Linked DNA regions of Homo sapiens. The protein of the gene in region 1 interacts with the protein of each later gene in a pairwise test. Each region holds a gene or a part of one and is shown in the gene's direction. Other genes may lie near its edges. The genes, in order: EIF4ENIF1, SPRED1, EFHC1 and TXLNA.

Region 1 (7,024 bases):
TATTCTAGCTTTATTAAGGCTTTTTTCCTTTTCTGCCTCCCGTAGAAGGGGGACTGTTTTATTCTTGCAAGTACAGTACCTGCACGAGAAGTCTGCTTTTTAAGTCATGTGTGGCTCTTCTACATGTATACTGATGGCTGAAGCCACAGAGGGACACTGGAGTGATTTACTTATCAGACGGTTTTTGTCCTGGTTTTGCTTTCAGGTATAGTAGAGTGCAATGGAGGAGTGGCCGAAGAGGATGAAGTGGAGGTCATCCTTGCACAGGAGCCTGCGGCTGATCAGGAAGTGCCAAGGGATGCTGTCTTGCCTGAGCAGTCCCCAGGAGACTTTGACTTTAATGAGTTCTTTAACCTTGATAAGGTGCCATGCTTGGCTTCGGTGAGTGTAGCAGCACACTTAAAAAATGTGTGGTTAAATTTGACCTGAGTATTTAAGACATCGGTTTGAAAGTGTTGTTTTGCTAGATGCTTTTGGGGTTTTTGGCTTTTATTCTTACATATTTAAATTTTTGTTGGCTTTGTTTTGAGAGGCTTAATGGATAATATGAGATTTTTGTACCAGTTAACTCTTTTTTAAGCTGGTGGTGTTAGACTAAAAATTCTTTTTTTGTTGTTTTTTTTTTTTTGAGTTGGAATCTTACTCTGTCACCCAGGCTGAAGTGCAGTGGCACGATCTTGGCTCATTGCAACCTCCGTCTCCTGGGTTCAAGCGATTCTTCTGCCTCAGCCTCCTGAGTAGTTGGGATCACAGGTGTGTGCCACCATGCCCAGCTAATTTTTGTATTTTTAGTAGAGATGGGGTTTCACTATGTTGGCCAGACGGGTCTTGAACTCCTGACCTTGTGATCCTCCTGTCTTGGTCTCCCAAAGTGCTGGGATTACAGGCGTGAGCCACCGCACCTGGCTTTTTAAAGTTATTTTTAGAATTCCTGTTTATCACTAAGATGCTTATATTTTGGATACACTCCCCAATTTTTCACAGTGATGTATCATGCTTATCTTATATTTTAATTAATACAAAATTAGTGCACTTAAAAGTCAGCATTATTTAAGGTATGAGCATCTACAGGTGGAATGTGATTGAAATTGTCTAGATAATTCCTCTGAAAATAGAAATTCTGGAAACAATAATTAGGGTCTTGAATTAAAATCCCTTCAAAAGAAGTATATTGTGGCTTAATTTGGGTATGGATTATGAAAACATTCTTCCAGATAAGAACAAAGAATAAATCTAAGCTTCCCCTGCTTAACTTTGGAAACTGTGGGTTCCAGATTTCAAATAAAACAGTCACTAATTCTGTCATCCATGTACCAGTTTTTGAAAAAGCATGTTTTCTGTTTATCAGTGGGATTGACGTGAAAGTATATGACTTATTTTCAAGGATATGTCTGATTTTTGGATAGATGTTTGCTCTATCTTGTCTTTTCTAAATATTGATAAGAATACTGCAAAAAATCAATTTGGATATTTGACTGAATTTATGGTATGATTTGAATTGAAAAATTTTTTAAATGCTTAAATCTAGTTTTTAAGAAAGATTGGCACTATTTCATAATTTCTACCAAAGCAATTTATTGTTCATAGTGTGTTATTTAATTGTCCTTATTAAATGTAAACTATGGAGGTTGGATTTGGAAACAGAAAACACCTGAAAACTCTCTATTAATCTCAAACAGAAATTAGAGATCAGTTGAAATTTCATCTTCCACAATCATACTTTTTCTAAACTTTGACTTGGAATTACAGTCTTTATGAGCTCTGCTTTTTTAGCCTTTGGCTTCTGAAACTCTCAAGATTGAATTTCATAATGTTCATTACAACCTTGAAACCACTAAGTTTGAAGCAATGGTTTTCTTTCATCAGTTCCCCATACTTGATATTTAGTTGAAGGTCACTCATCAGCTTGTCAGTGGAATGCTGTGGCATTGACACTGTTCTCTGAGAACATTTGGTAGTACGTGGATTTACTCCTGAGGCAAAGGATAGAAACCCAAAAACCTTTTTGTAGCATAGAGGCTTTGCTTTATATTCTTAGAAAGTAGTGGTGGTTCATGCCTGTAATCCCAGCACTTTGGGAGGCCAAGGCAGGTGGATCATTTGAGGTCAGAAGTTCGAGACAAGCCTGGCCAACATGGTAAAAACCCATCTCTACTAAAAATAAAATTAAAAATAGCCAGGCATATGGTGGCGTATGCCTGTAGTCCCAGCTACTCGAGAGCCTGAGGCATAAGAATCACTTGAACCTGGGAGGCAGAGGTTGCAGTGAGCCAAGATTGCACCCCTGCACTTCAGCCTGGGCAACAGAGCGAGACTGTCTTAAAAAAATAGTAGACCGGGTGTGGTGGCTCATGCTTGTAATCCCAGCACTTTGGGAGGCCAAGGCGGGCGGATCACAAGGTCAGGAGATCGAGACCATCCTGGCTAACACGGTAAAACCCCGTCTCTACTAAAAATACAAAAAATTAGCCGGGCGTGGTGGCAGGCGCCTGTAGTCCCAGCTACTCAGGAGGCTGAGGCAGGAGAATGGTGTGAACCCGGGAGGCGGAGCTTGCAGTGAGCCGAGATCGTGCCACTGCACTCCAGCCTGGGTGACAGAGCGAGACTCTGTCTCAAAAAAAAAAAAAAAAAAGTAATAAAAAATAAAAAAGGAAAGTAAGTAGATGGTTATACTCAAGTTTGGGTTATTCAGAAATTACCCAGGATGGAGGAAGAAAAAGGTGTTCAAATTCCTAGGTTCTGAGAGTATTTATCTTCAGGTCACGAGCATGAAAGGAAGTTTCAAAGTAAGTGACCCTTTCATAAGATTTAAACCTTCTTGTCCTTTTTCATCTAGAAACTATTAGTTTTTATTGTCTTTTTCTTCAGATGATAGAAGATGTTTTGGGAGAAGGGTCAGTCTCTGCCAGTCGGTTCAGTAGGTGGTTCTCTAACCCGAGCAGATCAGGAAGCCGATCCAGCAGTCTTGGGTCAACACCACATGAAGAGCTAGAGAGACTTGCAGGTAAAATGGCTTCAGATTCTGCCCTTGAAGGTAAACCTGGGTTTTTCCCTGATATGGTTCATTTTATCTTCATTAGTCAGGAGTCAATTAGGGTCAAAGGGTCTCTGGACAACTGAAAAGCCTTCAATTTGTGTCCTTTTAATATTGTTGAAGGGGCCGGGTGCAGTGGCTCACGCCTGTAATCCCAGCACTTTGGGAGGCCAAGGCAGGCAGATCACAAGGTTAGGAGTTTGAGACCAGCCTGGCCAACATGGTGAAACCCCCATCTCTACTAAAAATACAAAAATCAGCCAGGCGTGGTGGCGGGCATCTGTAGTCCCAGCTACTCAGGAGGCTGAGGCAGGAGAATCGCTTGAAACTGGCAGGCGGAGGTTGCAGTGAGCCGAGATTGCGCCACTGCACTCCAGCCTGGGCGAAAAAGCGAAACTCCATCTCAAAGAAAAAAAAAAAAAAAAAGAAAGAAAGAAAAATACTGTCGAAGGCATGTTTCTTTACTGGAACAGATTAATTTTGAGTATGTTTATTTGCAATATCAGGTCTGGAGCAAGCCATCCTCTCTCCTGGACAGAACTCGGGGAATTACTTTGCTCCTATACCATTGGAAGACCATGCTGAAAATAAAGTGGATATTTTAGAAATGCTACAGAAAGCCAAAGTGGATTTGAAACCTCTTCTTTCCAGCCTTTCTGCAAATAAAGAAAAACTTAAAGAAAGCTGTAAGTGTTTATGAATATCTGTTTTAGATATCTGAAAAGGTCTAGATGTTCAGTCTTCAGGCAGTTGGGTCTAACATAACCTCTGTTTCATAAAAAGTCAAATATATATTGGGTTTTTGTTTAATGTTCTTTTTTAAAAACTCATTTCATCAAACAATACCACCTCTTTGAGAATCTCACAGTGGGTCATGAGCCCTATGAGAACTTTTCCTGTAAGTTCTTACCTAGGGTCTGGTTGTAATAATCCAGTGAATGTTGAAAACAAACTCCAGTGAATGTTTTATTCCTCCAGAGCATAACTTACCATTTCCTCACAAATCTGCCCTAGTCTTCCATGTTCTTGCTTAGGCTATAAATTCTCAACATAAAAACTTAGTGATATAATGACCACGGTGCAGGCAGCAATCTTGGCAATGTTGGGCTATCTGGGATTCTTGTCCCAGGTAACAAGTCTCCCAGAAGACTCATATCCTTCTGCAGGATGCACAGCAGGAGCTTGTCAAGTTTTAAAGAATAGCACTTCATAGTTGTGGTCCCCCAGTTTCTAGCATCTAAACATTTTAGGTTTAGTTTATGCCATCTCTTAGTACACAATTTGATTTTAAGTGTTATTAGTTTATTTTTGGTGTCAGTCTTTTCTGACAGTCTCATCTCAATTTTGAAATAAATTATTTTCATCTTATCTGTCATACTAGCCAAAGAGAATTCCTACCAGATATCTCTTTGCTTGATTTAACCTGGACGTTCTCAACTTCTCAGCACATTCAGGGGTTGTGCTTTCAGTGGAGGAGGTAGAAGCAGGTCTGAAGGGCTTGAAGGTTGACCAGCAAGTGAAGAATTCAACTCCCTTCATGGCAGAACACCTAGAAGAGACCTTGAGTGCCGTAACCAACAATCGACAACTGAAGAAAGACGGAGACATGACTGCGTTCAACAAGCTAGTGAGCACAATGAAGGCAAGTGGGACTTTGCCTTCTCAGCCCAAAGTCAGCGTAAGTATCTGACACAAACCCCCCACCCTTTTCTCCTTTTTTTTTCTTCTTTTTCCCACCACAATAAAAGGATTTTTAAAAAGGTATTCTGAGTAAGTTGGAAATTCTTTAGTAGTCATTTGGTCCTTGATGCTTTTGTGTGTTCCTTAATTATTGATATGCTATTTGTTACTGGAAAAAGCAGGCTTGTGGTTAATTTATATGTATTGTGGGTGACAGTATAAAGATTAAAAGATTCAGTCTTAATGGTAATGCCTGTATAACTTTAAGTCACTGCTAAAATGAGGTATAAAACTATCTTTTTGGATGAACTCCAGAGACAATTTTCTTGTTATTCAGCTACTTAAGTTCATATTCTTTACCATATTTGTATAGTAAAATCTTTATTCACATCTTCTAATTATTCCCAGATACCAGGGATTACCTGCATTCTTGCAGTCATACAAATCATTTGTAAAGTATCTAAGATGGGGCTGAGCACAGTGGCTCACGCGTGTAATCCCAGCACTTTGGGAGGCTGAGGCAGGCAGATCACCTGAAGTCAGGAGTTTGAGACCAGCCTGGCCAACATGGTGAAACGCCATCTCTACTAAAAATAAAAATTAGCCAGGCGTGGGGGCATGCGCCTGTAATCTCAGCTACTTGGGAGGCCAAGACAAGAGAACTGCTTGAACCTGGGAAATGAAAGTTGCAGTGAGCCGAGGTCACGCCACTGCACTCCAGGCTGGGCAACAGAGTGAGACTGTCTCCAAAAAAAAAAAAAAAAAGTAAGATGGGTTTGTCAGGATAATTACATTCTGTCAATTTACTAATGGAAAAAGTTGTGGCTCCAAGTTAAAAACAAAACTTGTAGGCATGAAGTTAGGTTACAAGGTGACACAACTGCATATCACCTTGTAAATGCAAATGTTTATAATATACTGGTTCTTTGTCCTAACAATTTTGAGAGGGTAGTTCTTACCCATAGCCTATGTGTTAATATCACTATCTCTTGATACAAACTAATGTGGAAGCAGGGTAGATATGAATAATAAAAACATAAACATGGACTTATTCTAGTTGCTAAGTTATAGCAAATTTACCAAATTGAGTTTTCTCTCTTTTTTTCCTGTTCCCTGCTTGCCTGGGAACTTACCAGTTAGCCAAGATGCAAGTAGCAATAGCTGTTTGAATCATTATGTCTTATACCAAAAGAAAGCAACTGACTTTTAGCATTCCTTATCTGACCAATAGGACAGACAGAGGTTCCATTATTCCTTAGTGCCAGGACTGACCTACACTTGAAAGGAGGCACCTCAGATAGGTAGACTGACTTCTTTGTATCTGACCACACCATACCAGTTGCAGGAGAATGTCCCTGTAAAACTGCTTTAGAGTTACTTTTATACAAAGAATTATTAGATACAAATGCTTTCAAATGAAGATCAGACTGAAAGATGGTAGACTATCCTATTTTCCTTTCTCGTTACATTTGTGTCTTGGTGATTGGGTGCTGACTGCAATGGTGTGGTTCATATCTTATAATTAGCTTCTTTCTTTTGGTGTGAGCAACTAAAAATATGGAAGGGGGCATTCAGCAGTTTACCTGATGTTTTTCCACATTTTATTGCAGATATGATTCTAGGATTTGATATTAACACAATTTACTCGAGTTGTAAGGGCAGTTGGTTTGATGTTGGGGTTTTAGCACTCAGAAGTGTATCTGGTTTTAGCTGAGCAAATGAGCCTCAAACACCTGCCAAACGGATGGATGACACATTCAAGTGGCTAGGCAAAGGCTAAGACAAACTCAGCTAGCAGGAAAGAATACAACAAGGAAAGTAATGGAGTAAGAATAGCAGGTGTTATCTCAAAATATTGCTCAATTTGCATGTTGTTAAGTCATGGTTTACTTTTTGAATTCGGTGTCTTTAATTACTACTGCTGTGTATGTTTTGTATACTATTTCTGATCTGCCTCCATCCATTTAGGTTGTCATATTGGTTCATCCAAAAATAATACATGCTGGTTCAATCTAAATTCTGTTTTAAATTATAGATTCTATCCTCCAAGTATAATAAGCCATGCAGTATAAAGTTGTCTATTTGTTTTTATTAGATGGAAGTAAATGACTCTTAAAGAGATTACTTATAAAATCATCTGCCTTTAGTCCCAGTTCCAAAATCAACAATAAAATACTTGGGTATTCTTGAGCTATTTGTCATGCCTAGACACTGCTTTGGACTTTGACAGCTCCATCTAGTGGAAGGGAAACTACACCAGAGAAAGCACTTCACACAGAGCTAAATGGGCATAGGGATGTCCTGAAATGC
Region 2 (7,142 bases), on another chromosome or scaffold:
TCACTTGTGATAACCAGCTATTGTGACTAGCTTCCTTCCCACAGGGCTACCTAGAAAACACAACTGAGCAAATATAAGTATCTCCTTTCTTGCTGAGCCCGAATGTGGCCATAGAATTCTTCTTGATTAGTACCAACTGAATGGAGTTGGAGCTTAAGACAAAACTGTGATCTGTATTTAGCTTCTCACATCTGGCTGGATCCCCTTTCCTAACTGAACTATCCCTCTGGCCTTGACCAGTGTCTATCTAAGCTTATGATATACCACTGGCCACCCTTTTTTGTGTTTAGCTGGAACACAGCTTTCAATCACGGATGTGCTGGGAGACAGGATGACAAAAATGGTTTTAAGGAAAGGGGGAGTAGATGATGAAGGACTAAAAAGGGCCAAGCACCTGGCATACTTACAAAAGCATGGCCCCATCATAGACCTAGTGATCACAATTTCTGAGCTGGGGTCTAGGAATCTGCATTTTAAGTACTTGCAGTGTATTTTAAAAAAATTATTATAGAACATTTTAAATTATAAAATAGTAAAGAGAATGTATTCATCATTAATCTATAACCAATCTTGTTTCATCTATATCCTTACCCATTCTTCCTACTCCTCACCCCAGTGGATTATTCTGAAGCATAACGTTTCATCTGTAAATATTTTAGTACATATCTCTGAAAGGTAAGGACTTGAAGAAAATGTTGCCATAAACCAATACTTAAAAAAAATTCCTTGTTTTCATCAAATCTCCAGTTAATGTTCAAATCTCTCCAGTTGTCCCAAATTTAAAAATATTTAAGTCACGATCCAAATAAGATCTCACACATTGTCTTTGGTTGGTACGTCTCTTTACTCTTAAGGTCCAGACACCCGGATAGATAAGTCGAGGCCTCCTGAGTATAGAGCAGCCAGTGATTGACAGTCAGACTAGAAGATCCCTTGGCTCTGAGCAGTAGCACCATTTCTGACTGCTTCAGAGTAGAAGACTCTGAGCTCTGCTAAACCAAAGCAAATTTTTAAAAAGTTGGTGAGATCTTTAACAACTGGGTGAGAGAACTACAAATGCGTTGTTGAAAAAAGGGCACAAAAGTGTTCTAGAAATGGCATAGGACCACCAAAGGCTGTGGATGGTTTGCTGACTATGTCTTGGTCGTGGAGTTGAGAGCAATCTTTAAAGCATTAATTTGGGCTATTGATCACATCTTGCTCCCTTTATGTAAGCAGTGTGTGGTGTATGTGGAATGTGGAAATAGCCAGCACAGTGCCTGGCTCATGACAACCAAGATTCTTCCAAAGACTATACTGACAATTTCCTTGATACACTAGAACCTCAAACAGATGCAAATCTTCAAAAGATAAAGGCCTTTGCAAATGACCGACTTTCCTTCTATTTACTTAATCATAATAACTGTGATAGTTTCATTTATTAATGGCTTACTAAGGACCAGGCCATGTGTCTAGCAACTGATAGTTATTTGTTGAATGCATGAACAAGAATATTGAATGCTTTACATTTAATCCTCAGAGCATCTGCCACTATTTTGCCATGAAGTTTATTACTATCTCTGACAAAACAGTAGTAAGAACTAGGACTTATTCTTACTGTGAATTCTTAATCTGTTCTAAGTAACTCTGTATATTATTATCTCGTTCATCAGCACAACAGCTGTGTAAGTTAAGTACTATTATCCCCATTTTATGCAGGCCCAGAGTTTCAGTAACTTGGATAAGAACACAGATTATAACTGATGGTACTTGACTGAAACTTGAGCAGCCTAACTGGTTAACAGTAGTCCTGGAAGGGGAAGAGGCCAGTATCAACACTCCCATGTATAAGTTCTTGGCAAGAATAAGTTCAAAAAGGCAGGTTTAGAGGTCATGTCTAGCACAGACCATCATCAACATTGCCCCTCTCTTTCTCAAGAGTAAGGACAATGCTGCTGCTGAGGCAGGAATCAAGTTACATAAAGAGACCTCAGAAATCAATGGGATGGTTTTTTGGGTACATTGACTGGTTTAGCGCCTCTGTTCATTCGTCAAACATTTATTAAGCACCTGCTACGTGCAAAACACTGTTAACAGTGCACTACTGTGCACGCTCATTCTCAGAACAACAATCCTGCGATTCCTGGAGAGGGATGGTAGAAGAGGAGTGCTGCCTTGTTAACGAGGTTCTCCCAACTTCTTTTTTTCCTCGGGAATTGTTCTCTTTAATGTGGCACCAGCGGCAACCTTCATTCTTAGGTCGCACAAATCTGAGAAGGAAGAGAAAAACATTGCACGCAGGGCGAGACTTATATCTGGGAAGATGCGTCAGGAACTTGGGAGCACTTGGGATTCAGTCCCCTAAGGTGGTTCATGTACAGGCTGGTTTTCTAAGTGGAGAACAGATAATAGAATTTGCAGAGCCAGGAGCTCTGACTCCTGTGGCTGGGCTGACCTTAGGCTCCAGCCCGCAACCCCAGTAGGTTTCTGTGCAAAAATCTTTTGAGATGAATGCATACTTTGTCTTCTAACAATGCATTCGTGACAGCTGTCTATCCAATCGGTCCGCCTCCGTTCAGAGCAGTTCGTGCCACAGAAGCATCTCCTGCGCTATAGTTATGCAACCTCACTCGCAGCGGGAGTTATTTCCTCCGTTCTGGCTGCGCCAGATTCATGTAACACGCCTACCCTGGGCTTCAATGGAAGTCGTTCTCCATTAACAATCACTCCAGCTTTCCGAGATGAATGCCCTGATAGCATACCCCTTGCGCAGTAAGAATCCAGGCAGCGAGGCGAGGTGTTAAAACACACATACATTCTCATATTCTCTCTCTCTCTCTCTCACACACACACACACACACACACACACACACATACACTTCGTGCATGCAGCTAGGGGACTGCAGCAGTGCAACCAGGGGGACAGCAGGAGGAGCTCTCTTTGCAGTCCCTGCTTCTAACCCCCACTAACTAAAGATGAACTCATGCCAGTTCCATTCTTTGCTCTGCAAAGAAAACACACACACACACACACACACACACACACACACACACACACACACGGCAGAAGAGAGTAGCCTCCAGATTTCCCCTCTGAGCACACTGTCTTTCTAGCCTCTTCGTTCAAGCAACCCGGATATTCCAAGCAGAGTAACGGGGAGTAACGCGCCACAACAATGCAACCTCCCTAGCAGCTCCCCTCGCAGCTCCCACCCCCGCCCCCTTTCGCGGCGTGCCAAGAGTTTGGAGCGCGCGCACGCACACCGAGCACGGTGCAGGGAGGATATCCCTCCGCCTCCCTCCCCCTTTCTCCGCTAAGTGGCTCGACAACGATTTGGGAAATGAAGGGAGGAGGGAACTACTTTCCTGAAACTTGCTATGCTGCACATGACTTCGAGTTGCAGTGATTCGCCCGGAGGCCGCGGCTTTTAGTCCTACCCACACACCCTCACAGCCTGGGCACCCCGCTCGGCAGCCCCACCCCGCGCCCGCTCTGGCCTCCGGGGAAAGCGGGCGGCCGGGAGAAGTCGCGAGGGACTACTTCGCCTCCTTCTCTCGCGGGCGCCCCCGGTTCGGGCAGCGGCTGCGGCGGCGGAAGGAGCGGGCGGCGTGAGCGCTTCCGCCGCCCCCCTCGCGGCTCCCCTCTCTCGGGCGTGAGGAGCTGGCCCGCTGAGCTGCTGGTGGGCACTGGCTGGCGGGGAACCTGCAGCCGCTCTTGTCCTCTCCCGCCGCTTCTCGGGATCCTGCCCCCCGGACCCGGGCCCGCCCGCTCTTCTCCGGCCGGGTGGGAACGATCGGTTTGCCTGCCCCTCGCCTCACACGCTCCCCGCCGCCCCCTCCACCCCCCTGAGGAGGAGTCCCGGCTGGAGCGTGTCTGGAGGAATCCGCCGCCGCGGGGCCCCTAGCCCTGCTCTGCCGGCGCCTGAGGACCGACCCAGACGCCGCCGGGGGTTGAGGGGCAGCCGGCGGCGAGGCGGGAGATGGTGGGGTGGGCTCCGGCAGGACCGCGCCGCCGCTGCCCGGAGCCTGGGCTCGGCACCCCCCCGCCGGCCCCCACCGAGCGGAGCTCTGCTTCCTCCTCGCCGCATCCCTGAGGGAAGCGCCGCCTCTGCTCCCGGGTTCTCCGCCCGCCGACTCCTTCCTGGCCGGACCCCGCTGCGCTCCACCCCAGTGGCTGGAGGAGCAGCTCTCCAGTCAGCCTTTGCAGCCCCTCTCTTTTTCCCTTTCCACCGGGCCTCCTCGGATCCCTTGGCTGGGCACTGAGGCGGGGGAAGAGGCTGGGGTCGCCACGGCGGAGGTTGCTGCCGCCACCCCCCTGCGGGGGTGGCCGGGGTTCCCGGCTGGGGGGGTACCGTTCTGGGTGAGGCATCCACCATGGTGAGGCCCCTGTGCCGCTGCCCCCGCGCCCCCCCGGCCGCCGCTGCCTCCTGCCCCTCGGTGCTGCTGTTGCTCCCCCGCCTGCTGTTGCTCCTCCATCTCCAGATCGGATCACGGTGAGGGAAAGATGAGCGAGGAGACGGCGACTTCTGACAACGAGTAAGCGCCTCATTGATCTCGATTGCTAATCCCCCTCCCCCTATCCGCCCTCGGCTCTCCCCCAGACCCATCCGAAACTTGGGTGCCGGAAAGCTTGCGACCCTGGAGAGTTCGGTGCATCTTCTGGAGATAGCTGATTTCTTTAGCCATTTTTAGTGGCAGCACCCCTCCCCATCCTCCCACATTTAGCTGCTTTCTTTTGGGGTAGGGGATTAAGTGTTGGGAGAGGATGGCAATTGTACGTCTATGAGAGGGAATAATGTGGATGGATGGAAGTGGAGTAGAAACTACCCCTTTGCCTGTGAGACCCCTGTCCCGTCCTTTTTCACTCACATACCAGTCACCATACCTTCAGTATCCATCCTACTTCCTTTATAGCTGTTTCACTTGGAAACTAATGTGTGGGAGCACCTCCTGCAGCAAACTGCTCTTGAATCTTAATTCGATGAGTCAGTGACTCTTAAATACCGATTAAGCCTTCACCCTCTCCCCCCTCCCCCTTTTAAACTTATGACCTGTAAGATTCTTGTAAAAAATAGGGTTAGGGAAACATTTTTAGAATTTAATAGGATTAAGGACACCTGGAGTGTGGGCGATGTTGAGCTAGAGTTTACCTTTGTGAATATTGGACGTGTCTTCAGGAACGGAGAAGAATTTTGAATGCTAATTTTTACCTTTCAGCTATGTGAAAACACATGATTTACGTTGATGTAACCGAATTTACATTGCTGAATATGTTGGTGATTTCATTAACTTTTAGAGCATTCCGGTTTAAGTTTTAGCTTATTTGGGCTTTCTCCTTGCTTTCCAAACGAAATACTTCGTCTTTTAAATGTTTTGCTTTAACGTGACAGCTGCGTGGAGAAATAATGGTTGGCAACACTTTTCTATTGAGAAGGGATTTAATTCCAAGCAGAATATTAGCATCCGTTTTCTTGTAATTAAGTTCAACTTTTGTTTATCTTCGGAGGGTTGGAAAGAGTTAAGTGAGTTAGGACTTAGTCATTTGGATGCATTCCTTTAAATACAGTGCATTACTAAAGTCAGACCTTTTTGAAATAACTTTTTAAAGTCTGTACCGAGTCCTGTTTAACGTAAAATAGCTAGAGAAAGGCCAAACAACATTTCCTCCTCCCTTACTCCCTCCCCACCCCAAAACACACGCTTCTGCTGAGCGGGTGTAGAAGGAGGTACATTGCTGCAGTGTCAGTGCAGTGTAGAAGCAGAAGTGGCAGCCATGTTCTGTCTCTTTTTGTGAATCGCCCTCATTTGCATAGCACACTCTTCATTCATAAAAAAAATAATTAAACATCCATCACCTTGGACATCTTGAAAGGATTTCCCAAGAAAAAAAATTCGCGGCTTATTTGTCTGTGTGTAGATTTTTGAGTTCAGAAGGTAAGAAGAATGTGAAATTTTAGGTTAAATTTAAAAACATACGCACACACAAACAACTACCCCTGTTCTGAGAATGTTGACACAGTTATGTGGGAAATATCAGTTCGGGGAGGTGCTGGGATCACGTGATCGCCTCCATTCATAAAATACCTGGCTGTCCATTCAGAGTGCAGTACAGTCTCTCCCTGCCTTCTGCAGATTAGACCTACTTTGAGGGAGATCAAGAAGTCTATCTCAGATAATGGTTATTTAGGAGAAGAACTGCTAAAAATGCTGAACCGAATGACGGTAACTTTTATTGGTATCTTTCAAAAAGTTTGGATTAAAAATGTTAAGTTTTCTTTTAGAGATGGGAAAAGACTTCTTACCAGTTTAATTTTTTTCTTAAAGCAGTGAATATCTCCTTGTTTCCTTCTGGTTGCAGCTAATAAAAAAAGCAGATGATGGAATGTGAATTAACACAAGTAAAATATATTTTTTCTAAATGGCCATTTTTTTAAATACTTGCCATAAATAAATTGAGACAACAGGTTTTTTTGTATAGTGATAGTGCGTTCCACTGCTATTACAGTAAATTGAGAAAATACTCCCAGTGATTTAATCCCCAAGATGTTGATATTTGAAACACCGATGGCAATCTTCAGTGAGAGGATTGCTTTAAATATTTTTTTTTCATCTAAATGTACTTAGTATGGGACAACTTGGAAATTATCTCACTCACCCAGACTTTTAAAATCGTTTTTTCACAAATTTATCCTGCTTTATTAATAAATTATTCCCTAGGAGCTTTGTAATACTTTTTAAGTTTGGGCAGGGCGATAATAATATTTAGCATAATATTTTGGTAAACTCTTCATGGGAACAAAATCTTGGGGGTTTTACTTTAAAAAACTCTATTATATTAGAAAATAATGTGTTCATCTGATAATCAGTTTTACTAGAGCCAGCATTGTTTGCTTGTGCATTAGATAAACCACAGAGTGAACTTATTTGGAATGTAGCTTTTAATATAGTAATTTATGTCTCATCTTTAATAGGTGAACCGTTTTGAAATGGAAATTTATTATTTATAGTCATTATGAAGAAAGATACGTATCATGGCAGAAGCCATTAAGGCCTTAGCACAGTTTAAAACTGCCCTGTAACATGGATTTTATTTGGGCCTTACATTTTTTTCCCTTTTCTCTTTTTTAAAGCCATTGCTCATAGGGATTTAATTACAGTAGGGA
Region 3 (7,024 bases), on another chromosome or scaffold:
TATAGATGAGATACTCTTTTAATCTCTCATGCAAGGTGAATTGGTAGTTAAATTGGGCATTACAGAGCACAGCTTTAAATTTTACTTTAAGCTTAGGTGGCTACTTCGCTCCTTGTTCTTGTTCAAGTGTTTTAACTTAAAATACAGAATCTTTTAATGTAGGTAAGCTTTTGTTTTGTTTTGTTTTTTTGAGACAGAGTCTCACTGTTGCCCAGGCTGGAGTGCAGTGGTTCAATCATAGCTTATTGCAGCTTGGACCTCCCAGGCTCAAGTGATCCTTCCACCTCAGCCGACTATAATAGGCACAAGCCACCACACCCAGCTAATTTTTTTTTTTTTTTTTTTTTTTTTTTAGTTTTTGTAGAGACAGCATCTTGTTGCCCAGGCTGGTCTCGAACTCTGGGGCTGAAGTGATTCTCCCTCTTCAGCCTCCCAGAGTTCTGGGATTATAGGCACGAGCCACCATGCCCAGCCTTAATGTTGGTAAGCTTCTTGATGTAAGTTTTGTGATGCTTATAAGCAAAGATTCAAGTTATATTTTTAAAAGTTAGTTTTTTTTTTACCTAACAAATATTTGTCTAATGTTATTAATGACACATTCTTTTCTTCTTCAGAAAACAGCCTTCCACAGAAGTCAGACGCTGAGCTACAGGAACGGCTATGCAATTGTTCGACGTCCAACAGTTGGGATAGGCGGAGACCGGCTCCAGTTCAACCAGCTGTCCCAGGCTGAGCTGGATGAGTTGGCCAGTAAGGCACCAGTCTTAACTTATGGCCAACCTAAACAAGCCCCACCTGCGGATTTTATTCCTGCGCATGTGGCCTTTGACAAAAAGGTATCATCTGGAATTTTAGGGTACCCCTTGAATTAGGGTCTGAGAGCCAACTGCTTGCAAAAAAGTTAAAACAGTAAACCACAGAATTTCCAAAGGGCTCTGAGGAGAAAATTGTTCAGATGCCTTAACCCTTAGTCATGGACAGCTGAACTCAGGCTAAAAAGAGGCTTTCTTTAGTCAGGAAGCTGATTACAGGGAGTAAAGTAGTTCCCTGTAGACTTCACCAGACTATTTTCCAAATGCAGTTAAAGAAAAGTTGGCTATAATTCTGAATTCTTGAATTTATATTCTATGTTTATCAGCCGTGTGTTCTCCACTTTTTAAAGGTAACTGTATTCTGTAATGGTGACATATCTAATCTTCATGAGATGCAGAATATCATTATGAAAACAATGACTCCATCTATTGTCAGTTTTCTGCAAGGCAGTCTCCATAAGTTTTTGGTTTTCAGGGAACATTTCATGTTTGATATTACATAACCAATGGGTGGTATAACATTTTTGTTTGTTTCTCATTTATCTTTATGTTTTTGCAATGTGAGTTTCCTCATTTCCATCTATTGACATTACCACATCATTCTTGTTTTTCCTTGTCAATGAGCCTCCTCTTTTCACTAAAGTGAAGTAGCCCTAGCCCTGACCATGTAGCAGAATCACTGGCGAGATTTTTAAGAAAGTTACGTTATTCCAACCCTCATCAGTTCTAATTTCCAGATGAGCTTTATGTGTAACTGGTTCTGAGAAGTACTGATCAGTTTTGATAAGTTAGCTTTCTTAATTTACTCTTAGTCTGTTTCTTTTCTTGTCTTAATTTTTATTTTATTATTCCTGTTAAATGTCTATAACATTTTCATCCAGCCAGCCAACTTTTATTGAGTACCTGTTGTAAGCTAGAGGCTGGGGAGGAGCTATGCCATTTACATGATAGTCACTTATTTTTAAACAATTTCAGTCTCTCAACTAGAATCTGTATCATTTCCTCTTCCCCACTTAACTCATTTATAGGGACACATTCACATATGCATTCATAGGCCGAACCTAAACATCCACTAAACAGTATGATTTATATAATTGGATGTATCTTTTCCTTTTGCTTGTTTCTTTTGTTTATTTGTGGCTTTGACAGACATTGCAAAATCAGCAGAGAAGGGAGAGGGCTGAAAATACAAGAGAGAAGTGGGATAGGCACTAAATAATTACCAAGATATGAATCCTGGTATGTTTAATTTTTACTGAAAAGAATAGTAAGTAACTGTTATAAAGTAGAAGGTGATAAAGTGATATATGTCGTAAGAAAGTATTAGTAAAATTCAGAGGAGAAATTGCGCTTGAGTAGGAAATAGGCTTCCTATTTTTTGTTTTCTATGTTATTTTACACTAATTGTTGTTACTTAATTTGTACTTATTTAATATTCATAATTCATTTCTTTAAGGATAGTGCACATAAAAATATTATTTTTATTTTCCAATTCATTTTACTTGGATCATCACAATTTCTAGATAAATGAGCCTTAGCATAGATAATGGGGTAGAGAGAAGCTAAATGCATGACTTTGAAACTAAGTTTGTTTGTTTATAATAAGGGAATTATGGTTTCTCTGAATTAAATGAAGGTTCTAATTTTAAATGAAGGACCTCTAATACCCAGAGGTCCACATAATAGCCAACATATTTGTCTATATTTTGGAAATTCTTAGGACTGTTCCTCATAGACAGAATATAACTTCATTTCTTACTTAGGTAATAAAGACCAGGACATCTATTCCAAGTGCCCTCATCTTTTCCCCTTGCTCCTGTATAATTCCAGCATCACCTACTATATTGTGTTTCCCAGACTGACTTCCAGCTCTTTATTTCTGATGTTCTTCTTTCATCTTTTTCATCTTCAAGTTTCATATTATTTCTATTTCAGACACTCTAGTGACTGCTTCTCTAGCTAGAGTCATATCATCCTGTCCTCTTTCTATAATACCTTGTGATGCCTTTAAGCAAGATAACTTTGTTTCTCACTTGACTGTCAAATCACTTACAATCTGACTTCTCCCTACCCACAGCCCCAGAATACTTTCTCCTAGGTAGCCAGTGCTGTCCTTTTACCAGATCTAGAGAGGTTTACTTTGCCAGCATTGTCTTTGGCTTGTTTATGCCATCTGACACTGTTGACCCTTCCTCCCTTCTTGAAACTGTGCTCTTCTTTTGCCTCCATGACTCTCATTTTCCTCCTTCTTTCTATGTGGTTGCTTATTCTTTAGCCTCCCTTCCTCTTTTCAATTCTTAACTTACAAGTATTTTCAAGGCTCTATCTCATTCTTTATATAATTTTCTTGAGATCTCACCCACTTTCGTGATTTCAACCGTCACCTCACCGTAGAGAATGTCACTATTTAGTTCCAACTCTGACATCATTGAGACTCCAGATCTGTATCCCCCTGGCCCATGGGATATCTTCACCTGGATGAACTGTTGGTACCTCAAGTTCTGTATGTCTCTAACTTATCTCTATCCCTCACCTTTTCCCATAGATCTGCTTTCCCTGTGTGGTTCCACTAGGTAATCCAAGCTTGAAACCTGAGCCATCTTTGGCTTTTTCTCTCCTTTATCCTCCACACTTAATGAGTTGCCAAGTCAAATATCTCTCACTTTCATTTCCTCTGCCACTATCATAGTTCAGACAAGCCAAATGACTACCTAACTGTTGTTTTAGTCTCATTCCTAGTCCTTATGCTTATAACAGGTATGCTGCCTTGTTTATTCTCTAGAGTTCAGCTCTGATTATGTCATTTTTCTGGGAAAATGCCATCAGGCTTTCTTAACCAATACAGTAAACATTACCACCATTCACCTCACTGTGACATGAAAGTCATCTTTCATTCTTCTTTCCCCTCACAATCCACATCTAATCTATTAGCAAGTTCTATTGTTTCTGCTTCTAAAATATGTAACTAATTCATTTACTTATTTTCATCCTCACTATTACCATAAATTTATTTTCCACAGAGCAGCCAGGCTTATTTTTTGAAAATCAGATTATGTCACATACTGACTGAAACACTTCCATGGCTTCCCTATCATCTATAAAGATCCAACTCTACAGGTTCCTCACAGCCCTACTGGAGCTGGCCCTCCCTGCTCTCTCCCCAGCCTCATCTTGGGTCCTTTTTCTCACCTATCATGTTTCAATACATTGGATTTATTTTTACTGATTTCCTTGAAATGGCAGCATTTGAAAATTCCAATTCAGGGCCTTTTTGTACATGGCATTTCTCCTATCTGAAATAGCTTCCCCACCATCCTTAAGTGGCTGACTCCATCTTTCCTTTCAGTGAGGCTTTTCCTGGCCACTCTGCTATGGCAGTTCCTCCTCATTTTTCTATATCACTTCCCTCTCTTTTTTTTTTTTCCCCTTTGCAGCACTATATTATAATTTGTGTTGCTGATTTGTTTAGTGTTTATCTGTCCCACCTGAGTGTATACTTCATGAAGGTAAGGACTTATATAGTTTATTATATATTTAGTGCTCAATAAATATCAGTTCTAAAATGACATGAATAATTAACAAAATTTATTTCTTGTCTGTGTCACTGCTGAAAATTGGCAAGTCAAACACGTACCATATATGCTTATAATAATGTAAAATTAAAAATGTGACTTGGCTTTTTATAATTGTGTGTGATATGAAAATATTTATGCAGCATTTCCCCCCTTCATCTTGAAGTAAATACAAATATTTTTATGTTTATTGTGGCATTCTGAGCACTTCCTGGGAGTTAGAAGACCTGGATTCTAATTCTGGGTCTCCTACCAGCTAACATTGTGACCTTGTAGTCACAATCTCTAATTTCCTCGTCTATAAACTCAGAAGGTTAGAATACATGATAATCAGGAGCCCAGCCTGCTATAAAATTCCATGAAAAGTATATTTTTAAACACAGTATTTAAATATAATTTTTCTTTTCTTTCTACGTAACAATCAAGTTCTTATTCTACCTGGGAAAGCTGATGTTATCCCACTACTTTAAAAACAATTTTTTTTATTTCCATAGGTTACTGGGGAACAGGTCGTGTTTGGTTACATGAGTAAGTTCTATAGTGGTGATTTGTGAGATTTTGGTGCACCCATCACCCAGGCAGTATACAGTGCCCCCAATTTGTAGTCTTTTATCCCTCACCCCCTTCCCACCCTTTCCCCCTGAGTCCCCAAAGTTCATTGTGTCATTCTTATGCCTTTGCATCCTCATACCTTAGCTACCACTTATGAGTGAGAACATACAATGTTTGGTTTTCTATTCCTGAGTTACTTCACTTAGAATAATAGTCTCCAGTCTCATCCAAGTCACTGTGAATGCTATTAATTCATTCCTTTTTATGGCTAAATAGTATTCCATCATATATATCACATTTTCTTTGTCCACTTATTGATTGATGGGTATTTGGGTTGGTTCCATATTTTTGCAGTTGCAAATTGTGCTGCTATAAACATGCATGTACAAGTATCTTTTTTGTATGATGAGTTCTTTTCCAATGGGTAGATACCCAGTAGTGGGATTGCTGGATCAAATGGTGGTTCTACTTTTAGTTCTTTGAGGAATCTTCACACTTTTAGTTCTTTAAGGAATCTTCCATAGTGGTTGTACTAGTTTACATTCCCACCAGCAGTTCCCAGTTCATTGCATCCACACCAACATCTAATATTTTATGATGTTTTGATTATGGCCATTCTTGCAGGACTAAGATGATATCACATTGTGGTTTTGATTTACATTTCCCTGATCATTAGTGATGTTGAACATTTTTTCATATGTTTGTTGGCCATTTGTATATCTTCTTTTGAGAATTGTCTATTCATGTCCTTAGCCCACTTTTTGATGGGCTTCTTTGTTTTTCCTTGCTAATTTGTTTGAGTTCATTGTAAATTCTGGATATTAATCTTTTGTCAGATGTATAGATTATGAAGATTTTTTCCCACTCTGTGGGTTGTCTGTTTACTCTGTTGACTGTTCCTTTTGCCGTGAAAAAGCTCTTTAGGTTAATTAAGTCCCAGCTATATATCTTTGTTTTTATTGCATTTGCTTTTGGGTTCTTGGTCATGAAACCCTTGCCTAAGCCAATGTCTAGAAGAGGTTTTCCAATGTTATTTTCTAGAATTTTTATAGTTTCAGGTCTTAGATTTAAGTCCTTGATCCATCTTGAGTTGATTTTTATATAAGGTGAGAGATGAGGATCCAGTTTTATTCTCCTACTTGTGGCTTGCCAATTATCCCAGCACAATTTGTTGAATAGGGTGTCCTTTCCTCACTTTATGTTTTTGTTTGCTTTGTCAAAGATCAGTTGGCTGTAAGTATTTGGCTTTATTTCTGGGCTCTCTGTTCTATTCCATTGGTCTATGTGCCTATTTTTATACCAGTACCATGCTGTTTTGGTAACTATGGTCTTATAGTATAGTTTGAAATCAGGTAGTGTGATGCCTCCAGGTTTATTCTTTTTGCTTATTCTTGCTTTGGCTATGCGGGCTCTTTTTAGGTTCTATATGAAGTTTAGGATTGTTTTTTCTAATTCTGTGAAGAATGATAGTGGTATTTTGATGGGAATTGCATTGAATTTTTAGATTGCTTTTGGCAGTATGGTCATTTTCACAATGTTGATTCCCACCCTATCAGCATGGAATGTGTTTCCATTATTTGTTTCATTATTTGTGTCATCTGTTATTTCTTTCAGCAGTGTTTTGTAGTTTTCCTTGTAGAGGTCTTTCACCTCCTTGGTTATGTATATTTCTAAGTTTTTGTTTGTTTGTTTGTTTTTCAGCTATTGTAAAAGGGGTTGAGTTCTTGATTTGATTCTCAGCTTGGTCGCTGTTGGTGTAAAGAAGAGCTACTGATATGTGTATATTAATTTTGTATCCAGAAACTTCGCTGAATTCTTTTATCAGTTCTAGGAGCTTTCTGGAGGAGTCTTTAGGATTTTCCAGGTAAACAATCATATCATCAGTGAACAGTGACAGTTTGACTTCTTTACCTATTTGGATGACCTTTATTTCTTTCTGTTGTCTGATTGCTCTGCCTAGGACTTCTTCTAGTACTGTGCTGAAGAGGAGTGGAGAGAGTGGGCATCCTTATGTTGTCCCAGTTCTCAGAGGGAATGCTTTCAACTTTTCCCCATTCAGCATTATGTTGGCTGTGGGTCTGTCATAGA
Region 4 (7,753 bases), on another chromosome or scaffold:
GTTTGAGCTTTTTCATTCTTTTGTTAAGCCAACAAGTTGAGAATTTGGCCCTGCTGGGATCCATGTAGTGGGCACTAGCTGCTCTTTGGCCAAGGCCTTCATAAATGATTCAGTCTCTCATTATCTGTCCTCTAGCCCCACACCCTGATTTAGACCGTGGCAAAGGAAGAACTTGAGGTCAAGACCAACCAAATCTGTGAATTAAAGCTGTTATTTTTTTCTCTGCAAGGGCGCTTTGCTTCAGGTCTGGGCTATGTGCAGAACCTAAGCAGGCTGTGAGAGTTAGAAGAGGCAGTATTACATGTTAGGCCCAGAACACCATGGGAAAAGGTTTATGTAGTGTATCTTAGTGGCCTGCCTAGCTGCCTCTGGGCCAGGCTGACTTCTGATGTCCACATTAGCTCGTACCTGAACCCTGTTGCTGAATGCCAGCCCTGTTCTCCTGTAACTATTATATACGCCATGGCCTGGGGGGCATTGAAGGAAGTAAGCTCTCAGAGATCCTAACACTGGCTGGGAACCTCTGACTCAGAGCATGTCTTTAAAGAGTCCACATCTGGCCAGGCGCGGTGGCACATGCCTGTAATCCCAGCACTTTGGGAGGCCGAGGCGGGTGGATCACGAGGTCAGGAGTTTGAGACCAGCCTGGCAACATAGTGAAACCCCATCTCTAATAAAAATACAAAAAATTAGCTGGGCGTGGTGGCAGGCGCCTGTAATCCCAGCTACTTGGGAGGCTGAGACAGGAGAATCACTTGAACCCAGGAGGCGGAGGTTGCAGTGAGCCAAGATCATGCCACTGCACTCCAGCTTGGGTGACAGTGCGAGACTCCATCTCAAAAAAAAAAAAAAAAAAAAAATCCACATCTTCAGCTGGGCGCGGTGGCTCATGCCTGTAATCCTAGCACTTTGGGAGGCTGAGGCGGGCAGATCACTTGAGGTTAGGGGTTCAAAACCAGCCTGACCAACATAGTAAAACCCCGTCCCTACAAAAATAAAAAAATAAAAAAAATAAGCCAGGTGTGGTGGTGGGCACCTGTGATCTCAGCTACGTGGGAGGCTGAGGCAGGAGAATCTCTTGAACCTAGGAGGCAGAGGTTGCAGTGAGCCAAGATTGTGCCAGCCTGGGCGACAGGGTGAGGCTCTTGTCTCAAAAAAAAAAGTCCACATCTTCATGAACCCTCAGACTCTGGAGTTGGGTGTCGGCTTTTTTAGCCAGCTTTTGTGGGAATTGCCTTTGACCTATTAAAGAAGGAAAGTGGGTAATGGAGTCCCAGCCACTCAAGAGACTGGATATCCCCCGAGAATGGCTTGGGTTACCAGCTATGGACCCTTGGAAGATGAATCTAATCCTTCTCACTGGTTTTTCTTTGCAAATTCATTTGCTTTTATTTTTCTAATAACAATAAACTCTATTTTCCATGTTCTCAGGGCCCCTGGGTAGACAGACACAGCTTGATTTCAGAGCAGACATAGGCGAAGAAAACATGGCATTGAGTGTGCTGAGTCCAGACAAATGTTATTTATATACACATCCAAATTTGAAGAGAAAATGTATTTCTTTAGGTTTCAAACACTGTAATAGATATAAAGCAAAAATAAAAACCTGTTGCAAAGTTCTAAATTGTCTTCTTTGGCTTGGAGTGACCCTAGACTGGATTTGGGGGAAGAGAATGAGGAGGTGTTTAAATTTGTAGCTTAACAGTGGAAATAAGAGTTGTACCAACCTGCACCTGCTCTAAAGTTTTTTTCATCGACTTTATTGAAATATAATTGACATACAATAAACTGTACATATTTAAAGTATATACACGTTGATAAATTGAAACACATATGCACCCATAAAACAACCACAAGATAGTGAATATATCTATGACCTTCATAAGCCGTAAGCTTCCCGCTTGAGAATCCCTCCTTTCTGCCCCACCTCCAGCAACCACTGATCTGTGGCTGTCACTGTAGTTTAGTTTGCATTTTCTAGAGTTTCTCTAAATGATTTTGACTTAGTTTCATCAGCACCACTCTACAGCCCTTTGAACCTTTTTTTTTTTTTTGAAACGGAGTTTTTTATTCTTGGCATCCAGGCTGGAGTACAATGGCGTGATCTCGGTTCACTGCAACCTCTGCCTCCTGGGTTCAAGCGATTCTCCTGCCTCAGCCTCCCAAATAGCTGGGATTACAGGTGCCCGCCACCACGCCCAGCTAATTTTTGTATTTTTAGTAGAGACGGGGTTTCACGTTGGCCAGGCTGGTCTTGAACTCTTGACCTCAGGTGATCCGCCTGCCTCCGCCTCCCAAAGTGCTGGGATTACAGGCATGAGCCATCGTGCCCAGCCTGAACCTCTTAAGATCAAATAGTTCACAGACTCCTCCCTTCAGTTTAGATAATTCCTAAAGCAGAGATTACAGACAAGCAGCCAGAAAGTTGATTGAACCCACAGGAAGGTTTTGCTTGGCAGAGCGTGTTTAAGTTTGAATTAGTTGCCAACATTTTTTTTTTAAATCAAATGTCTGTCTTGAAAAAGACTGTCCTGAAGTCTCCATTTTTAAAAAGAGGCCAAGCACTGTGGCTCATGCCTGTAATCCCAACCCTTTGGGAGGCCAAGGTAGGAGGATCACTTGAGGCCAGGAGTTCAAGACCAGCCTGGGCAGCAAAGTGAGATCTGTCTCTACAAAAAAATTTAAAAGTTAGCTGGCTGTGGTGGCACATACCTGTAATCCTAGCTACTTGGGAGGCTGGGGCAAGGGGATCACTTGAGTCCAGGTGGTCGAGTCTGCAGTGAGCTATTATGATCACTGCACTCCAGCCCCAGCAGCTGAGTAAAACCTGTCTAAAAAACAAAAATACAATCTGGCCCTACCCGGCCTGAGTTTCTGCTTGCTAACAATGTGCAAGAGCTGCTGTATTTTACTGCAATCACCACCTCTCCCTCACTCTGGCAGGTGCTAATATTGTTGCTATATATTGTTTATAGCAAAGGAGAAAGTAACTTGTTAACCTATGTTTCTGTCAATTATTCTTGCCTGTTCTCATTACCCAACTGGCCCCTCTAGGCTATTGTTGACCCTTCTACTACATCCTCTATCCCTCACCCCATGCATACATTTTTATGTTCTTTATCTCACCTAGAACACCCTTGTTATATGGAAATCTATCAAGGCCTGATTTATATGGTGCCTTCTCAAGAGATTTCCAGAATGCTTTTCTAGAAATAATCAGGGCCTTGGTTTCAGGACATCTAGATTCCAACCTTTCTGAGCCTCAGTTCCATCATTATACTAAAAATTGAATATCTCTTATCCAACATGCTTGGGACCAGAAGTGTTTCCAATTTGGGATTTTCTCAAATTTTACCGGTTGAGCTTCCCCAATCTGAAAATCTGAAATCCAACATGCACGGCTCTGAAGTCTTTCACTGAGCCTTTGGGGGAAATATTTAACATCCTAACAGCCCTAAACCAACGCTCAATTAGCACAACAGTTTACAATCTTCTCTACCCACAGCCTGATGCGAGGCTCTGGGACTAGACTATTTAGCCAACAGTTCTTGCAAAATTAACTGACTTATAAGTAAATAGTAATTTCAACACCTCACTGCTAATGCTGTAACAACTCTGCAGACCTAGGGAGCAAGTACGGTTTGCAGAGCACTGGGAAGGCTCTGAAGTGACCTTTGAACTGGGCCTCAAAAAATTTTGGGTTTGGCAAAAGTCAAATCTCTTAGGCTTCAAATTCCAGGCACAAGGATTGTTGGGTTTGATTTCATTATCCAGAAGCAATGGGGATACAGAATTGTGATCTCATGTGTAGGGAACTGTGGGGGTTTTTTCTACTTTAACCCCAGTGAGACTTTGTAGAGTGTGGGGTAGAGAAAAGGCTCATGAATATGCCTGAAGCCTAACTCAGCACCTTTCTGAGGAACTGACTGCCAAAATGGTAATGGAGAGGGGAAAATATGACCTACTTTCACAAGTTACCTTGACTGCCTCAGGGAAACCTGCTGTGGTAGTGTTTCTTCTGGGTGAAAGACCAGGTAATTACCTGGGTGCTGGTCTCAGACTTACCAGTTTTGAATCCCTGTTTTAACCACTCACTATCGATATGACCTTGGATAAGTTACCTAACCTTTCTCTTACTGTCCTTTTCCGTAAAATGGGGATAACAGATAGTAGTTATTTCTATGAGTGGTTATGAGAACCAAGCTATTAGATAGCGGGAAAGCACACAGTAAGCGTTCAAGGAACTGCTATTGTTATTAAAAGCCTCCTTTGGAAGAAGGACATTGAGGCCCAGAGAGAGAACAGAACGTCCAGCCACACAGCAAATCCGTGATGAAGTTGGGACTGGAGTATGGGTCTCCTGAGTCTCAGCCCAGGACTCTATCCCTCTTCCCGAGTCCTCGGAGTTCCCGGATGGAGTCACATTTGTTCACGGCCAGGGAGGAAGGTTTGATGGAGGCCTGCAGGAAACAACAGCCAGGCGCAAGGCTTTGGGAGTTGAAGCATAGCTTCTGCGAGATAGAAACAAGGTTGACATGGGCACTCGTGCAGAATGACGGGCTCCTTTTGGACTCCCAGGACTACAGTCCCTTATGCACCTTGGGATCTGCGGCTAGCCCCTGCGTAAAGAGGGACGCGTAGTCTTTTCCCTGCCCCGCCCTGCCGGGGCGCCCGCCTCCGAGGCCGCCCTCGCTTCGTCCTTCCCAGCAAGCTCCGCGCCGGCGCCGGCTATTGATTGGCTGAGGCGGGAGCAGGCGGCTGGCCGGCAGCAGTTACTCGGGGTTTCCGGTGCGAGGCCAGAGGTGGGGAAGCCATCGGACGTCGGCGGTGAGGTACGTGCAGCGGCGGCCGGTGGGCGAGACTATTTGAGAGTGTGCGGGCCGGGATGTTCTCGGCCTGTGGGGAAATCACGCCAACTCCCCGCGTGGGCCGGGGGCTGTCTGGGGATATGCGCATGCGCGGGCGTGCCTCGCGGCTTGAGGGCGCGCGGGGCGTGGGTGGCTGCGCGCGCGGGGGGCGCACGTGGGGCCTGAGGGGCGGGGGCGGTGCCGGGAGTCCCGCCACGTCAGTCTCCGGCCCTGAGCCAATCCCGCGCCCGGCCTGCCGCGAGGGGGCCGGTTGTGCCGGGAAGTGGCTCCAGGGAGAAGAGGCCTCTTCCCTCACCCGCTGTGGGAGCTGCGCCCCGAAAGCCTGCCCCGGCACGTCGGGCTCTCCTGACCCGCCAAGACCAGAGAGCCGTTGGCGCCCTCCGCCCGGGCCTGCCGGTCCGTTTATTTTAAGAAGCTTTGTGCGCCTGCTGTGGGGATTTCTGATCCAGGCTGCGAAGAATTTCGAAGTCTGGAAAATAGCAACTGTGTTTGTTTCTAAAGGATCTTCTCCTGACCCAGCATCGCTCATCACAATGAAGAACCAAGACAAAAAGAACGGGGCTGCCAAACAATCCAATCCAAAAAGCAGCCCAGGACAACCGGAAGCAGGACCCGAGGGAGCCCAGGAGCGGCCCAGCCAGGCGGCTCCTGCAGTAGAAGCAGAAGGTCCCGGCAGCAGCCAGGCTCCTCGGAAGCCGGAGGGTGTGTGCCAGCTCTGCGTTGCCAGCGGGCAGGGGGAGGAGCTGTGGGGTCGGCCTCGCTTCTGGACTTACAGGCCGAGGCCAGGTTGTCCGGGAGGAGGAGATGTAGAATGAGAGGACAGTGCTGGGGGCCGCGGTCCCCCCTGCGCTCTGGCGAGTTGGCGGAGCTGCCCCCTCTAAGCACAGGAACAGAGTTCTGGAGAGAAGCTCCGACGGGATTAAGTCAGGTGGCAGCCAAACGAGGCACCCAGTCAGGAAATCCAGGTCCCGTTAGAAACACCTCAGCCACCAGCAGCTAACTGCCCTTCCTGTTTGAGGCATTTCTAGAATGATCTGAATGGCAAGAAATGGTTTTGTGGGGGGGAAGGAGATGGACTAGAAGTTGCTCCGTGCCATCCCTGTGTGCTGATGCTTTACATACTTTTATGATCTAACAAATATGTTCGGGTGGTAGTGAGAAATAGTTGTGTCATTTTACAAGTAAACAGACTTAAAGAAGTTAGGCAACGATTACTATAATTTCTTGATTTAAAAGATGTTTCGAATCTAAATTCTGACAGGAACTAGATTTGCTGAATGATACTCCATTCTTGCTTCTCAGTTTCCATAAAAAAAAAAGTTAGGCAACATTTAACTCAAACTGATGAGTTTGGCTGGGCCTGAAAAATCCCAACCAGTGGTATAATCGTCTTCTTTCTCACTCTACCCCTCATCCTCTCCTGCTGTAGGGGCTCAAGCCAGAACGGCTCAGTCTGGGGCCCTTCGTGATGTCTCTGAGGAGCTGAGCCGCCAACTGGAAGACATACTGAGCACATACTGTGTGGACAATAACCAGGGGGGCCCCGGCGAGGATGGGGCACAGGGTGAGCCGGCTGAACCCGAAGATGCAGAGAAGTCCCGGACCTATGTGGCAAGGAATGGGGAGCCTGAACCAACTCCAGTAGTCAATGGAGAGAAGGAACCCTCCAAGGGGGATCCAAACACAGAAGAGATCCGGCAGAGTGACGAGGTCGGAGACCGAGACCATCGAAGGCCACAGGAGAAGAAAAAAGCCAAGGGTTTGGGTGAGCAGAGGGCGGCTCTTTGTGAAGCTGGTGAGGAGAGGGAGTTTGGACTTGACGTTCTCTGGGCCAGTCTGTTCTGCCAGGATTCAAAGGAAAACGGTACTTCTCAGAGCAGCAAGTCACTCTAGTCTAATCAAAGCCAGGGATGTGGGGGCCACGGCATAGAGAGATGCAGGAGTTACCAGCACAAAGCCTTCTGGGTTTTGGAGCAACTGGAGCTTGGCATGGGACCTGTTCTCTCTTTGAGAAAATGGAGACGGGAGGCTAGGGTAGGCTCCTGTGCCAGCCAGTACTACCTGCTGTGTGACCTTGGGTGTGTCCCTTCTCCTCTCTGGGTCTTAGTTTATATTTCTCTTTACAGTAAGAAAATTAGACTAGGCCAGAGTTGAAAACCCAAATATCTGCATAAGCTGGGCTGGCCATGGGGCCACCTGAAGATGGAGGCTTTACTGCTTCCTGATTAGTTGCTCTCAGCTAGCCAACTGAGAGCAGGCAAAACTACAGGCTGGGTGCAGTCAGGCTTTTTTTTTTTTTTTTTTTTTTTAAATAAAGAAAAGCCAGAAATCTAGAGTTATGTGAGAACTCTAGATTTTTTCATAGTTAGCAGCTAAAATGGTAAGAGCCAAACAAAACCCATCCGTGGGTTGGATTTGGCACACATGCCTGCGAATTGCAGTCTCCATGCTGATCTCTTGGGCCCTTCTGGGGAGGCAGAGGGAAGGCTCCCTGACTCAGTCACAGGCAATGGGGAATAGGCAGTGACAGTCATTTTACAGCAGGGTATGTATGTTTAAGAGTCTAGGCCGGGTGTGGTGGCTCACGCCTGTAATTGCAGCACTTTGGGAGGCCGAGGCGGGTGGATCACCTGAGGGTCAGGAGTTCGAGAACAGCCTGGCCAACATGATGAAATCCCGTCTCTACTAAAAATACAAAAATTAGCTGGACATGCTGGCACACGCCTGTAATCCCAGCTACTTGGGAGGCTGAGGCAGGAGAATGGCTTGAACCCGGGAGGCAGAGGTTGCAGTGAACTGAGATTGTGCCACTACATCCAGCCTGGGTGACAAGAGTGAAACTCTGTCTCAAAAAAAAAAAAAAAGAATCTAGAATCTAAGTCGAG

The links.
Region 2: the proteins of EIF4ENIF1 (region 1) and SPRED1 interact in binary tests that used the Homo sapiens proteins (3 or more experiments, as listed by UniProt).
Region 3: the proteins of EIF4ENIF1 (region 1) and EFHC1 interact in binary tests that used the Homo sapiens proteins (3 or more experiments, as listed by UniProt).
Region 4: the proteins of EIF4ENIF1 (region 1) and TXLNA interact in binary tests that used the Homo sapiens proteins (3 or more experiments, as listed by UniProt).

What each region holds. Positions count from the first base shown.
Region 1 is NC_000022.11:31,451,832-31,458,855, reverse strand, and holds part of EIF4ENIF1 (eukaryotic translation initiation factor 4E transporter), read left to right. Parts: intron 1-205; coding exon 206-381; intron 382-2,868; coding exon 2,869-3,004; intron 3,005-3,540; coding exon 3,541-3,720; intron 3,721-4,479; coding exon 4,480-4,712; intron 4,713-7,024. UniProt on the Homo sapiens protein: EIF4E-binding protein that regulates translation and stability of mRNAs in processing bodies (P-bodies). Plays a key role in P-bodies to coordinate the storage of translationally inactive mRNAs in the cytoplasm and prevent their degradation.
Region 2 is NC_000015.10:38,248,703-38,255,844, forward strand, and holds the start of SPRED1 (sprouty-related, EVH1 domain-containing protein 1), read left to right. Parts: upstream 1-4,133; 5' UTR 4,134-4,483; coding exon 4,484-4,515; intron 4,516-6,082; exon of another isoform or gene 6,083-6,201; intron 6,202-7,142. UniProt on the Homo sapiens protein: Tyrosine kinase substrate that inhibits growth-factor-mediated activation of MAP kinase. Negatively regulates hematopoiesis of bone marrow.
Region 3 is NC_000006.12:52,423,332-52,430,355, forward strand, and holds part of EFHC1 (EF-hand domain-containing protein 1), read left to right. Parts: intron 1-355; exon of another isoform or gene 356-477; coding exon of another isoform or gene 478-483; intron 484-614; coding exon 615-836; intron 837-7,024. UniProt on the Homo sapiens protein: Microtubule inner protein (MIP) part of the dynein-decorated doublet microtubules (DMTs) in cilia axoneme, which is required for motile cilia beating.
Region 4 is NC_000001.11:32,174,945-32,182,697, forward strand, and holds the start of TXLNA (alpha-taxilin), read left to right. Parts: upstream 1-4,730; 5' UTR 4,731-4,832; intron 4,833-5,120; exon of another isoform or gene 5,121-5,369; 5' UTR 5,370-5,401; coding exon 5,402-5,570; intron 5,571-6,297; coding exon 6,298-6,633; coding exon of another isoform or gene 6,634-6,732; intron 6,733-7,753. UniProt on the Homo sapiens protein: May be involved in intracellular vesicle traffic and potentially in calcium-dependent exocytosis in neuroendocrine cells.